4 linked regions of the Homo sapiens genome follow. The protein of the gene in region 2 purifies or fractionates together with the protein of the main gene of each other region. This does not show direct contact. Each region holds a gene or a part of one and is shown on either strand. Other genes may lie near its edges.

Region 1 (3,633 bases), on a different chromosome or scaffold from region 2:
TCAAAATTCAGTCAGTAGTGGATTGACTAAATGGTTCAGCCATTAAAAATGGTTACATTGGAGTAATTTTAAAATTCTTAAGTAGAAAATATCTGTAACTTACTCTTTTGCTTTTCCATTTTTGAAAATTTCACAATAGGCTCAGTGTACTGAGCAAGTACCAAATTCATATCGATTTTACAAAAAAGATAAAGTTCTTTAAAAGTAGTACATCTCTGTAGAAGATTATCCTATTTTTTGGGTTTTTTTTTTTTTTTTTTTTTTTTTTTGAGACCGGGTCTTGCTCTGCCTCCCAGGCTCAAGCAATCCTCCCACATCAGCCTCTGGAGTAGCTGCGGCTACAGATGCACCCTACCATACCGAGCTAATTTTTGCATTTTTGTATTTCATATTTTTTCTCTACAAGAGATGGAGTTTTGCCATGTTGCCCAGGCTGGTCTCAAACTCCTGGCTCAGGTTATCCACCCGCCTCATCCTCCCAAAGTTCTGGGATTACAGGCCTAAGCCACCACACCCAGCCTTAGTCTTACTTTCAAGCTTATTCAGAGTTAGGACTGTCAGTGCTTATGTTCTTGATTTACTTGGCTTTGTTAAACGTGTCAAACTCTACTTCACCTTTTCTGCAGCAGTGAAAAGATTAATGAGCAGTGCCATCCAATAGAAATATAATGCAAACATATATGTAATTTTAAATTTTCTAGTAGCTACATTTAAAATGGCCAAAAGAAACAGGTGAAATTAATATATTTACTGAGTATATCTAAGATCATTTAAACATGTGTTTTCAAAATGAAAAATAATATTGAGGCCGGGCACGGTGGCTCACGCCTGTAATCCTCGCACTTTGGGAGGCCAAGGTGGGCGGATCACCTGAGGTCAGGAGTTCAAGACCAGCCTGGCCAACATGGTGAAACCCCATCTCTACTAAAATACAAAAATTAGCCGGGCATGATGGCTGATGCCTGTAATCCTGAGACGGGAGAATCGCTTGAACCCAGGAGACAGTGGTTGCAGTGAGCCAAGATTGCACCACTGCACTCCAGCCTGGGCAGCTGAGTGAGACGCCGTCTCAAAAAAAAAGAAAAATAATGAGATTACATTTTTCCCTCCATTAAGTCTTCAGAATTCAGTGTGTTTTTACCAGCATATCTTAGTTTGGGGTAGCCACATGTAGCTAGTGGCTATCATGCTGGATAACCTGTTACTGAGAGAGCAGCCCCGCTTTGGTTAGCCTGGCATCCATTCACAGGCATCCTTTCCCACCTCTTGAAATGGAAAAGGAGATCATCCTATCAAAGGCTACTCCATCACTGACTGGGTTCCCGCTCCTCTTCTGACTCTGGGCATTTTATTCAGATACTCCCTGTATTTTATCTTTGGCCTCTCCCACTGCATATGTCTTCCTCTCCTAGATCACTCCCATCTTCAAAGAAAACCTTCCTTGTTTTCTACATTTGCCTGCCTCTGGTCTCTATAATGAAACCTGCTTAAAGAGTTACCTATATTCTCTCCAACCTTCTGCAGACTGCATGCCTGTTATTTTCACTCCACCACAACTGCCAGGGCTCCCAGTGACTTCTTTGTCACTAAATCCAATCAGTAGATGGTTTTAAGTCTTTGCTACTTTATCTCCCAGTAGCATTTGTTAGTGTGGCCCCTTCCACATGTATCTTGGTTTATGTGACACCACTCTGGATAATTCTCCCAATCCACCTTCCACATGGCAACTGGAATACTCCTTCTAGAAAGCATAAATCTATTCTTTCCTCTGAATGATAACCCTTTAGTGGCTTCACTATTAGTAAAATTAACAGTTTTATAAGTTCTTACAGTATTGGCTATATCTGTGATTCAAATGCAGTGTAAATCTTGAATACCATAATTGTTCATTCATACCTATAGCGTACAGAACCACTTTATCTTGAGCACTAAAAAGACAGCATGGTGTAATAGGAAAAGCTTGGAAATGGAGAGCTGCCCTGCCCCTTATATGTATGACCATAGATGGGCCATTTGGTCTAGACCTTTATTTACAAAATGGGGATAAGTCCTACTTTCTAGTTAGTAATGCTGTCAAAAATTAAGTGATCTAACATTTGATAGTGATTTGAAAAATTGAACGTGTTGTATGATGGAGGATTTAGCAGTAAAACAATGAACAATGGTGTACACTCCTTCCAGAAAAAGTGTACCATTTAGTTATTCCAAAAAGGTCCATTTGAAATCTTCCAAATTCTAATTGTGAAGCAAGCATGTGAAAATGTAACTAAGATGGCATGTACACACACTACTTGAGAACACAGGCCAGTCTCACTTATAATTTGCTATATCAACAAATTAAAAGGAAGAAATGATATGATCAACTTCAGAGATGCTGAAAAGACAGGAATAGATAGAAATTTCGTTAACATTGTAAGTACATTTTGGCCTGGCGTGGTCACTCATACCTGTAATCCCAGCACTTTGGGAGGCAGAGGCAGGAGGATCACTTGAGACCAGCCTGGGCAACACAGGGAGACCCTGTCTCTACAAAAAATTTAAAAGTTAGCCAGGGATGCACCTGTAGTCCCAGCTACTGGGGGTGCTGAGGTGGGAGGATCACTTGAGCCCAGGAGGTCAGGGCTGCTGCAGGGAGCTGTGTTTGCACCATTGCACTCCAGTCTGGGTGACAGATCAAGACCCTCTCTCAAAAAAAATTAAAAAGTGTATTTATTTCAATCCAAAAGCCAGCATGATGCAAATAGGAAAACCTTGTTGAAGTCAAGAATAGTCTGAGGATATTCCATTATTTACCTTGTTCTAGAGGTAATCAGCAAATTTTTGTATATTGTCATGTGTTGCTTAACATTAGAGACGTGATCTGAATTATGATCAACTTCAGAGATGCTGAAAAGACAGGAATAGAAATTTCTTTAATTGCTATTGTATCAGACGATTTCTTCATTGTGAATAACATCAGTGTGTACTTAATACAAACCTAGATGGCATAACTTACTAAAAACCTAGGCTACATGGTATAGCTTATTTCTCTTAGGTTATAAATCTGTTCGGCATGTTACTGTACTGAATATTGTATGCAGTTGTAACACAATGGCAAGCATTTGTGTATCTAAACATAGAAAGGGTGCAGTAAAAATATGATATAAAAGATTAAAATAGTACACCTGTACAGGACATTTACCGTGAATGCAGCTTGCATGACTGGGGGTTGCTCTAAAAATTTTATTTCTTGGATAATAGATTAACCTTAATTTACTGTAACGTTTTTCTTTCTTTCTTTCTTTCTGTCTTTATTTTTTAGGAGATGTGGTTTTGCTATTCTGTGTTGGCCAGCCTGGTTTTGAACTGCTGGCCTCAAGCAGTCCTCCCACTTTGGCCTCCAAAGTGTTGGGATTATAGGTGTGAGCCATGGCATCTGGTCAACATTTTACTTTCTAAACTTAATTTTTTTTTTTTAACTTTTTGGCTCTTGTAAAAACACTTACCTTAAAACGCATTATACAAAACAGCAGTACAAAAATATTTTCTCTCTTTTTTTTTTTTTTTTGAGACAAGGTCTTGCCCTATCAGGCTGGAGTGAGTGGTGCATCACAGCCCACTGCACCCGTAGCCTCGACCTCCCTGGGCTCAGTG
Region 2 (3,864 bases):
CCTTAGCTTCAACCGGTTGTCACCAGGGGACTCTCCAGGGTGGCAGAGCTGATTTTGTTTTTTTTTTTGTTGGGGCTTTGCTCATGTTGCCCAGGCTAGAGTGCAGTGGCGCAACCACAGCTCACTGTAACCTCAAACTCCTGGGCTCAAGCAATCTACCTCGGCCTGAGTAGGTGGGACTACAGGCATGTGCCACCATGCCTGACCAATTTTTAAATTGTTTGTAGAGATGGGTCTTCTTATGTTACCCAGCCCGATCTTGAACTTTTGGCCTCAAGCGATTCTGATTTTTTTTTTTTTTAAAGAAAATCCAGAAATCCAAATTTTATGTGGAATTTCTCAAATGTTAAAATATTGGGCCAGGCATGTGGCTGACACCTTGTAATCCCAGCACTTTGGGAGGCCAGGAGTTCAAGACCAGCGTGGGCAACATGGTGAGACCCTGCCTCTACAAAAAAATACAAAAATTAGCTGGGTGCCATGTTGTGTGCCTGTAGTCCCAGCTACTTGGGAGGCTGAGGTGAGAGGATCCCTTGAGCCCAGGAGTTTAAGGCTGCAGTAAGCTGTGATGGTATGACTGCACTCCATGACAGAGCAAGACCCTGTCTCAAAAATATATATATATAGGGCCAAGCACAGTGGCTCATGCCTATAATCTCAGCACTTTGGGAGGCCGAGGTAGGTGAATCACCTGAGGGCTGGGAGTTCGAGACCAGCCTGGCCAACATGGCATAAACCCCATCTCTACTAAAAATACAAAAATTAACTGGGCATGGTGGCACCTGCCTATAGTCCCAGCTACTAGGGAGGCTGAGGCAGGAGAATCACTTGAACCCAGGAGGTGGAGGTTGCAGTGAGCTGAGATCATGTCACTGCACTCCAGCTTGGGCAACAAGAGCGAAACTCCATCTCAAAAAAAAAAAAATATATATATATATAGGCCACTAATTTAAATATAAACTGTATAGTCTCATGACATCATGCATTTAGTCCTTGAGCCCTGCTCACCACTTTGAGCTTTCTCTCAACTTTAGGAGTGGGGGCAGCCTTCCCTGGTGACTGTCCTTTTGTGTGATTGGCATCCATTTCTCTGGCTTCAACTTCCGCCCACACACTGTGACTCAAAATCCGTAATTCAGGGGTCCCAAACGCAAGTGTCTGTGTGGGTCAGACGCTGCTCTGTGTATCAACTAATTAGCTCATCTGATGCCCTCCAAAACCTTCGATACCAGTGGTTCTGGAACTTGGCTCCACATAAAAATGACCCAGGCAATTAGGTAAAAATCACGGGGTGTGGGGCCTGGGGTTTTGTTTGTTTGTTTGTTTTTTGTTTTTTGAGAGAAAGAGTCTCACTCTGTTGTCCAGGCTAGAGTGCAGTAGTGTGATCTTGACTCTGGAACTTCCACCTCCCAGGCTCAAGCGATCCTCCCACCTCAGCCTCCCAAGTAGCTGGGACCACAGATGCACACACCCACACCGGCTAAATTGTGTGTGCTTTTGGTAGAGACGAGGTCTCCCTAGGTTACCCAGGCTGGTCTCGAACTCCTGAGCTCAAGCAATCTGCCTGCCTCGGCCTCTCAAAGTGCTGGGATTACAGGCGTGAGCCACCGCACCCGGCAATGGGCATTCTTTTTTTAAGTTGCGCAGTGGTTGTGAAGCACAGTGAAGATTACAAACCATTTTCTAGCTCAGGGTTTCCCAACCTCAGCACAACTGGCATTTTGTTAGTTCTTTGTGTTGGGTGTTGTCCTGTCCTGTAAGACATTTAGCAGCATTTCCAGCAGATGCCAGTAGCCCCTCCCTCCCAAGTCATGGCAGTCAAAAATGTCTCCAGACATTGCCTAATGTCCCCTGGGTGGCAAAACAGTCCTGATACTGCTGTAGAAGGAGGGACAAATTATCCCTTCTTTAAGGGAAACAAGCTTGGAGGAGCAGCTCAAAGTCACACAGCAAGTGTCATGGAGTCTCCTCAGGAGGGGAACTGGGACAGGGACGGATTCCTGCAGCCTGGGGCAGCTGTGTGCCTGGAGGACTTGGTGGATAGACTCACAGGACTGTCTGGTGGCAGGAGCTGCAGAAGCTCGGGCGCCATCCAGCCTTCCGTGCCGGGGATGCCGGAGTGGAGGCTGAAGCTACAGCGGCCAGCAGGCAGCTTCTTGCAGAGGCCGAAGTCTGAGAGCACCACTCTGCCCAGGCCCTGGCTGTCAGGCCCGGTGATGAGAATATTTCCTGGCTTCAGGTCCCGGTGCACTGTGGGAGAGGGGCAGAAAGAAAGCTGGTTGCTGAGGGCGGAAGGCAGGGGCTAAGGACAGGGAGCGGGAGGCAGGGGAAGTGCGGGTACCTATGTGTAAAGAGTGCAGGTGGGCCAGGCCAGACATCAGCTGCTGCAGCACGACCTCGGGCTCCAGACCCCCGCGATCCAGGTCCGGGTTTTCTACGTACTGAGCAGCAGCAAGGGCCAAAGCATCACTCTCCAGCCCGGACCTTCCCACTCACCCTCCCTGAACCGCAATGCAACTCACCTCCTGCAAGGAGGCCCGGCAGAGCTCCAGGGCAATGTAGTGGAACTGGGGTCCCCGCTCGGTGCAGAAGTAGCGGAGCACGTTGGGGTGCCTGTCAGACTCCTGCAGCAGTTGAACTTCCCGCCGAACCAGGCCAAAGCACTCGCGGAGGAGCCGCTTGACAGCCACTGCCCGTCCCTCAAACTGTCCCCTGGAAAGTGGGTGATGGCGGGGGCAGGGGGGCATTCAGGGAAAGCAGATAAAGGGACAAACATGGTGGCTCACACCTGTAATCCTAGCACTTTGGGAGGCCAAGGCGGGCGGGTCACTTGAGGTCAGGAGTTCGAGACCAGCCTGGCCAACATGGTGAAACCCCCATCTCTACTAAAAAAAATATAAAAATTAGCCGGGCATGGTGATACACACCTGTAATCCCAGCTACTGGGAAGGCTGAGGCCCGGAATTGCTTGAACCTGGGAAGCGGAGGTTGCAGTGAGCTGAGATTGCACCACTGCCCTCCAGCCTGGGCAACAGAGCAAGACTCAAAAAAAAAAAAAAAAAAAAAAAAACAGATAAAGGAAAGAGCAGGACTGGCGAGTGAGGGATCAACCTGTACCCACCTCGGGGAGTCTTTGAAAGAATGTCTCTCCAGGGGACAGTGCCCACGAGGGCTGTGAGTGCCATGTCCCCAGCTTGGCTCCTGGCTGCCACTCACCGGAAAACGAAAGTCCCGCCTGCCCCGCGGCCCAGCACGTCCTTGGGATTGAAGGAAATCTTCCCCACTACGGTGAGTTGCTCAGCTGGGGGAGAGGAGGGTGGTGACTCAGGGAGCCTCTGCCCACCTTTGCCGGCCACTGGCCCAGTCCAGACTCACCTTGACATTTTCTGGGCCTCCACCCTCCCATGCTCAGCCTGGTGCAGTGGGTAAGAGCAAGGGCCCAAGTGCCAGACTGTCTGGATCCAATGCCTGGTGCTGCCACTGATTCTTTGTCTACTTAGGCAAATTCCTCACTTCTGTGCCCTCGGTATTCTCATCTGTAGAGTGGGGAGCTAAAGCTAAAGAGCCCACACAATATTATTGTGAGGATTAAATGGATATATGGAAAGAACGGGTGGAGGTGATGTTTGCTATATTATCCTCTTTTATTTCTCTCCCTCTTTCAGCATCTTCTGCACAGGTTTGTTTTGTTTTGCTTTGTTTTCCCTTTACATCCTCTGCCATTCTGCCCACCTCCACCAGTTGTAACTGAATCCTTTTAATTGACACTGAATCAGCTTCAACTTCAAGGTAAGGTGAGTTCTGGCAGTTGGAAGAGTGATGAGAGTGAGTATAGCCACAGAAAAAAGACTGGACCGGACAGAA
Region 3 (3,633 bases), on a different chromosome or scaffold from region 2:
GCACAGCCAGACCCGGCCCCAGCCCCCAGTGGGTGGTGCGTACGGTTTTCTGGGCTATCTCCCCGGGCGAGGGGGTTCACAAGAGCAGAGGCGGGCCGGTGCTCATTCTTCACTCCTGGATTCTGCCTGAGCTCTGGGCTTGCCCAGTGATTCACAATTCTGGGATTTTGCCTGAATGTACTTTCAGGATCAGAGTTATTGGCCAGGTGGCTTCCACTTTGCAAGTGGCTCACCTCGTCTCTTCCGTCACTGGGCAAGGCTGCTGGGGGAGCCACCAGAGGGCTGTGTTGCTCATGACCAGGGCCCTGATGTAGGATGGACGGGGTGGGGAAATGAGGAACGCTGGTGGCACAGGGCACCCCGCTGGGAACAGGTCCTTCAGGGCAGGGTGAACGATGTTGCCCCGAGGGCTGTGGGCCTCCCTGCACTGGCCCCCACTGTCCTGGCATCTGCAGACCAGGCTGAGGGAGGGAAGGGGATGCTGCTGGGGTGACCACACCGTCATGTGGGTTTTGCCTGCTCAGGGGTCGGTCGAGCCCAGGCATGTTCCCATGAGGGTGGCCCCCATGAGACGTTTCAGGATCCACTCCTGGAATGTAGTGAGGAAGATATGGCAGAGTCTGAACTTCAGGCTCTGAACTGGGACCGACCTCTGCACTCCTGTTCATCTCAGGCCCAGGAGGTGCTGAAGGTGTCAATGCACCAGAAAACGGACTGGCATGTGCTCTGGGCTGTGTCAGAGGTCCAGGCAGGGGCTCACAGGGTCCCTGAGAGCTATCTCTGGCATGTGTGTGAGGAACAAGCAAACCGGGGTGCTGAGAAAACCCTGCGGGGGCTGGGCCTTGCAAGACAGGTGGACTGCTTTTGGACGAACTGCCCAGTGGTGTACTTTGGAGCGCCTGTCTACTAAAAGCAAATGGATCCGTGACCGGCTGCAACGGGCAAGTTGTCGGAGCCACTGCTGCATTATTATTAGCCCGTCTCCTGTAAGGGCTGCTAGCCCAGAACACGCTCCGAGGATTCCCGGCTGGAGGTGGCCCAGCCATGCCAGACGGGACCGTCTGGGGCGGTGGCTGCATGACTGAACCCTTGCACAAGTCGATGCTGCTTACAGAAGGAAGCAGGATATAGCTGTTCCTTAATTGGAGCTGGAAAAGAAAAAGAGAAAATCAGCATAAAATCCATATATTCAAAGTCCTAGCTGCAATCAGGAAAACTAAGGAAAAAGAGAAACATTGAACATGATTTTATGTCACTTAAATCCCAAGGACTCTCTCTCCCCTACACCCCACCCCAGCAGAGAACACCTGTCCCTGAGGAACTGTTCTGGGGGGCAGGGGACAGAGTGAGAACCCTGGATGGCCTGGCTGCGAGCTGATGGAGTATGTCTAGATGGCCACTCCCTCCCCTGGGATCCTCTACTCACAGGGCCCATTGCTGCCGCAGACCCGCGCCACAACAACAGGGACAGTGCGGAACCTGACCACTGCTGTGATATGCTACCAGACCCACAGATACTCAATGTTTTCCTGTAAACCATCCCTAGATCCAGGAAGAGCCAACTCTTCTATTAAGAAAGAAAAACTGGCCAGATATGGTGGCTTACGCCTGTACTCCCAACACTTTAAGAGGCCAAGGCGGGAGGACCACTTGAGCCCAGGAATTCGAGGCCAGCCTGAGCAACAGGGGGATCTCGTTTCTACAAAAAATACAAAAATCAGCCAGGCATGGTGGTGCACACCTGTAGTCCCAACTACTCAGGAGGCTGAGGCAGGAGGATTGCGTCAGCCTGGGAGGTTGAGGCTGTCGTGAGCTATGACAGCACCACTACCCTTCAGCCTGGGTGACACAGTGAGTCCCTAGCTCAAAAAAAAAAAAAAAAAAGGAAAACTTTATATCATACTTTCCATACATGTTAATTTTAAATTTCAAAAGGGATACAAAAGTTTAAAATTCATTCTTCCATTTTCTTTGATGAAAGAGCATTATGAAGTATAGTTATAAAAGCTGCAAAATAGGCTGGGTGCAGTGGCTCATGCCTGTAATCCCAGCACTTTGGGAGGTCAAGGTGGAAGGACTGCCAGAGCCCAGGAGGTCGAGACCAGCCTGGGCAACATAGCAAGACCTTGTCTCTACAAAAGAAGAAAGTTAGCCAGACATGGTGGCACACACCTGTAGTCCCAGGGACTCAGGGGGTTAAGGAAGGAAGATCACTTGTGTCCATGAGTTCGAGGCTGCAGTGAGCTATGATTATACCACCGCGGTCCAGCCTGGGCAACAGAGCAAGACGGTCTCTATTTTAAAAAAATAAATAAATAAAAAGTGACACAATCATTTTTTTAAAAAGCACTGCAAAATAAATATATTCATCTAAATGCCTTTTATCACACCTCTTCATAGGTCTCCGTTTTTGTACTGTGACTGGCTTAAGGTCTGAAAGGACCACCAGCAAGATGTTACCTTTGAACTGGAGCCGTAACTGTGCCTGGAATGGAAACTCCCAGGAAACTTAAAGCAGCTTTACAAGGCACAGACTGGATTCCAACACTTTCAACAACAGGCAGAATTGCCAAGAAACCTCTTACAGAAAAGAAAGGGGCAAAAACCTCCATCAGTTTTTAAATAAAACATAGTAGATACAAACTTGAATAGTTAACCTGGCCTCTTAAGGCAAAAATTCAAGGACTATATCTTTAGGAAAGTTCTTTTCTTTCTATCAGTCTTTCTTCTTGTCAGCACCACCCTCATGAACAAACAGATAAGTTTAGCCAATCAAAGGAAAAATTAAACCAAAGGGGAGGACTCTGTAGTTTAATCCACACATTTTTTTTTTTGAGACGGAGTCTTGCTCTGTCGCCCAGACTGGGGTGCAGTGGTGCGATCTCGGCTCACTGCAAGCTCCGCCTCCCAGGTTCATGCCATTCTCCTGCCTCAGCCTCCTGAGCAGCTGGGACTACAGGCACCTGCCACCATGCCAGGCTAATTTTTTGTCTTTTCAGTAGAGATGGGGTTTCACCATGTTAGCCAGGATGGTCTTGATCTCCTGACCTCATAATCCACCCGCCTCGGCCTCCCAAAGTGCTGGGATTACAGGCGTGAGCCACCGTGCCTGGCCAATCCACACATCTTTGCAGATGTATATTATTTTGGTCTCTTGGAAATCTTTCTGATATTCAGATAAAAGAAGAAAACACTGGCCAGGTGCAGTGGCTCACACCTGTAAGCCGAGCACTTTGGGAGGTAGGAGGACCACTCGAGTTCAGCAGTTTGAGACCAGCCTGGGCAACACACAGCGATACCCCATCACCAAAAAAAAAATGCCGGTCGTGGTGGTGCGTGCCTGTAGTCCCAACTACTCGGGAGGCTGAGGTGGGAAGATCGCTTGAGCCAGGGAGGTTGAGGCTGCAGTGAGCCTTGTTCAAGCCACAACACTCCAGCCTGGGCGACAGAGTGAAACTGTCTCAAAAAAAAAAAGAAGAAAACACTGATCAATGTATTTTAAGTCAAGCTATTTACTAGGAACAGCAGCAAAGGCTTCATGGAGGTTTTAGGCTCTCATCTGAAAACAAAGAATGTTCACAGCTCTATTTTATATGGACTGAAAGGAGAACAGGCAGAGCATCTTCCTCTGAT
Region 4 (3,633 bases), on a different chromosome or scaffold from region 2:
AAGTAAACTGAGCAGGGAGCAGTCAAATTTCCAAAGAGCAGGTACAGGCAATGAGAGTCACAAAGTATGGAGCAGAAGTAACTTCCCCACTAGGAGACATGAACCTCTTTTGGATCAATCGAGTGGAAAATACTCATCTATGCCAAATATAAGTGTGAGATGTAGCTGCACAAAGTAGAATGTGAAAGGCCCAGACAGAATCACAAGATGCAAAAAGGAGGGATGGATGGTGCTTATATCTCAGTTTTTCCTTAAAAACATAACTCTTACAATGTCAACTTACCATTTGAAGGAATCCCAAAATCCAGATTCATTCTCACTCGTTCCATCACTCAGCAAGTCTTCGTTCACCATATCTGCCTTCTTCTGAACCTGCAATCAAATGTGATAAACCTTACTCCCAGTATGTCTCACAGGCATAAAACTGCCTCTCACTGGATATACACTGTGAGCCTGTCATCAATAGGGAATTATCAATCAATTCTCTCACAAACAGGCACAACCCCACCCAGAGTCTAGAAGGATTCAATAGAAGTATCTTCGCCAGGACATTCACATCATAACCTTATGTGAGGAGACAGCAACCTCTTTTAATTAGATGAACCCCATTTTCAGCTTGCAACATAGGCAAAGAGCCGCAAACTCAACTGTGCAGTGAAACCAGAAGCACGATTCAATGAGTCAACAGCTAGTTCCAGGGAAGAGTGTGGCTGCTGGGGGCTCTAGCTGTTGGGAGGGAGGTATTTCATGTTATGACCAGTTTTCAGGATTCACTAGCACAAACAGGGGTTTCTTCTTGGCAGTACAGTGACCATTTTTCTTCTCAACAATGGATGGCCTATTTTAGGTTTCACTGTGTGTAATGATTCTTTCTTCAAGAATATACTGTACTTGAATTTAAGGCACTAAGAGCTTCAACATTCAGAGAACGGAAAGTACAAGTCAAAAGAAATTAAATAGGACTATCATTTTATTATTGTTGAAAATTTCCATTGCCAGTTCCCCCAATATTGAGAAAAGAATCATCAACAACACTATGAATTGTGGCTATATAAACAACATAGCATCTATGAGAATATTTTATATAAGATGGGACATGTTCTGCACACCGAGATTACCCAAAAGGTACAATCTTTCAGTTGAGGGAAGCCACAAACTCACAGTTACAAAGACATTTTGCCTTAAAGCAGTATCCCTATAATTGCCATAGCAAATTCCAAAGAGACTCTTGGGCTGGTTCCAAGATACATATTTTTAAATGACAGCTGTCCAATAACAGAATGCCACTACTTTTACCAAACTCACCTTCACTTTAATAATTTTGCTTTTGAAGTTGTTGAGGACGATAACCACCTCATCAGCATCAGGGGGAGAATCAGTGCCATCGTGGCTTTGCGAGAAAAGAAAGATCAATATTACAAGGCACAATTCTCAAAAGGCAGCAAATGCTCTCAGAGCATCTGAGTCCATCATCCTTCTCATAAAGGAGTTTTCCAGATCCAGCTATCTTCTTGCTCCTTAAGCTCCTTCGAGCTGCACAGAAGCACGTGTTGAAACCTCTCTTTATATAAGGTGCATGCCCAAACCTCCTTTGTGAGTCCTCTTGCAAATTACCCATCACGTAGTGAGAGGCACCCATGTGTGGTAACCACATGGTGAGTACTAAACAACCGCCTGTGTTCACAAGCTCTGAGCCAAGCACAGAGCCTTCGATAAAGGAATGCAGGGAACAGGCCCCCTGAACCATTATTGGAACCACACTGCCTCCGCTCTTTTTTTTTTTTTTTTTTTTTTTTGAGACAGAGTTTTGCTCTGTTGCCCTGGAGTGCAGTAGAGCAATCTCGGCTCAATGCAACCTCCACCTCCGGGGTTCAAGTGATTCTCCTGCTTCAGCCTTCAGGTAGCTGAGTTTACAGGCACCCACCACCACGCCTGGCTAATTTTTGTATTTTAGTAGAGACAGGGTTTCACCATAGTGGCTAGGCTGGTCTCAAACTCCTGACCTTAAGTGATCCACCCTCCTCGGCCTCCCAAAGTGTTGGGATTACAGGCGTGAGCCATCACCCATCACTCCCGGCCACTACTCTTTAACTGGAATAGTGTTGTAAAGGAAATCTGCTCGCTCTTTCTGCCGGAGGCAACAATCAGTCAACAATAGGCCCTGTACTCAACCTGGTGTCTATACGCTACCAGAAAAACTGTAACAAATTCTATTTGCAGGCAGACAGGAGCAGAGGAAGAAAAATTAAATGTATGTTTCCCTACTAATCAACAGCAATGCCTAAAATTTCCAGTCACCAAATTTCAAGGTGCAGAAAGTCATAATTACAACATGAATTCACTGCATTTGCTGTCATCTAGCAGAGAGTAGGGTTCTCAGGCAAAGGAAGATTCTAATGGGGGTGGGGCCCTGAACAGCTAGGAAGAGGGGGCACCATGCTCCTGGGAAGGGGAGGGCTGGCAAGGGCCAGGGCATCCAAAAGGGAAGGAGTTCGGAAGTGCATCCCAAATTTTGTAAAACCTTATCTGAGGAAAATGTTATGTGGGAAAAAACCTTCTACTGTTTACAATGGTGTTATTATAATACAGAATTCTTCTATTTCCTGGGTAAGAACCAGGCACTAATCCACTGTTTCATGTGTGTCGCTACGGAGCTAATTAAGGCAAGGACATACTACAGAGTGCTTCAAATGTGCCCTAATGGAAATCATCCCCTACACAACCTGACGGGAAGCCTCTTCACACAGTTTAAAACTAATTTAAATTGTGTTAAGCAGAATTTATATCAAACTTTTTTAAAGGCAACATAATTATTTTTAAACTAATAAATATGTGCAGTAAACCTTAAGGTAAAAGCTGGCTATAGAGGGAATGTTCTTACTATGCCACCACAGACCAAGGAATACCAGCACTAACAGCACAGCTTCAAGACCAAAGCTTCCATGTACTGTGCATTTGCAAATCACTCAGGGTCAACACATACACTCTCTGGGCAGAAAAGTGTGGCTGTTCTTTCTTTCTTTTCTCCTTTCTTCAAGTTTCTCATCTGCCTATCTATGAGCCGCATCACACTGATAGAATGATTTGATTCTGGGATATTGTTAGCACAAAGGAATAATTAAAGAATAAAGCCTGACTATACTCATTAGCATCTATACCTCTTATTATCTAATTCTATTCTAACAATTCTTCCATATTTAATTTCCTGGAAAAACCACTGTTTCATCACATACAACTGCAAATTAAATTCATGTTGCCTGGCTAACTGCCAGGGTAGTATTCAATTAGAGCTAATGCTCATTTCTAAAAGTTCTGGGATAATGTAACTGCATCACTTACTCCTACCTGTAAATTCTATAAATATCTTCAGAGCGTCCCTTCCTAAGTCTGAGGATCCAAGCTCCTGGGTTGGCTTTCAGCTGAAAGTAGCCCTAGGACAAGAAGAAAAGTCCAGTTAGCTCTCTTCAAAACACCAAAATGTTATTTCTGAGGAACAGTTACTTCTATTTCTGAAATATCAATCAACTATAATGTGAATAACACAGTAAACAAATCAATGCAACTCTTAAAAAACCAAAACTACACATTAAAAACTCTAGCACAGACCAGGTGCGGTGGCTCACGCCTGTAATC

The links.
Region 1: the proteins of ERN2 (region 2) and PDIA6 purify together in Homo sapiens (affinity purification with mass spectrometry; one large-scale study listed by BioGRID and IntAct). This does not show direct contact.
Region 3: the proteins of ERN2 (region 2) and SEC16A purify together in Homo sapiens (affinity purification with mass spectrometry; one large-scale study listed by BioGRID and IntAct). This does not show direct contact.
Region 4: the proteins of ERN2 (region 2) and UGGT1 purify together in Homo sapiens (affinity purification with mass spectrometry; one large-scale study listed by BioGRID and IntAct). This does not show direct contact.

Annotation. Positions count from the first base shown.
Region 1 is NC_000002.12:10,806,282-10,809,914, reverse strand, and holds part of PDIA6 (protein disulfide-isomerase A6 isoform d precursor), read left to right. Parts: intron 1-3,633. UniProt on the Homo sapiens protein: May function as a chaperone that inhibits aggregation of misfolded proteins. Negatively regulates the unfolded protein response (UPR) through binding to UPR sensors such as ERN1, which in turn inactivates ERN1 signaling.
Region 2 is NC_000016.10:23,692,678-23,696,541, forward strand, and holds part of ERN2 (serine/threonine-protein kinase/endoribonuclease IRE2 isoform a precursor), read right to left. Parts: intron 3,302-3,864; coding exon 3,217-3,301; exon of another isoform or gene 3,054-3,216; intron 2,713-3,053; coding exon 2,523-2,712; intron 2,442-2,522; coding exon 2,342-2,441; intron 2,251-2,341; coding exon 2,051-2,250; intron 1-2,050. UniProt on the Homo sapiens protein: Induces translational repression through 28S ribosomal RNA cleavage in response to ER stress. Pro-apoptotic. Appears to play no role in the unfolded-protein response, unlike closely related proteins.
Region 3 is NC_000009.12:136,476,537-136,480,169, forward strand, and holds part of SEC16A (protein transport protein Sec16A), read right to left. Parts: intron 2,295-3,633; 5' UTR 2,173-2,294; intron 1,149-2,172; 5' UTR 1,080-1,148; coding exon 1-1,079. UniProt on the Homo sapiens protein: Acts as a molecular scaffold that plays a key role in the organization of the endoplasmic reticulum exit sites (ERES), also known as transitional endoplasmic reticulum (tER).
Region 4 is NC_000002.12:128,174,571-128,178,203, reverse strand, and holds part of UGGT1 (UDP-glucose:glycoprotein glucosyltransferase 1 precursor), read right to left. Parts: intron 3,432-3,633; coding exon 3,346-3,431; intron 1,391-3,345; coding exon 1,306-1,390; intron 373-1,305; coding exon 284-372; intron 1-283. UniProt on the Homo sapiens protein: Recognizes glycoproteins with minor folding defects. Reglucosylates single N-glycans near the misfolded part of the protein, thus providing quality control for protein folding in the endoplasmic reticulum.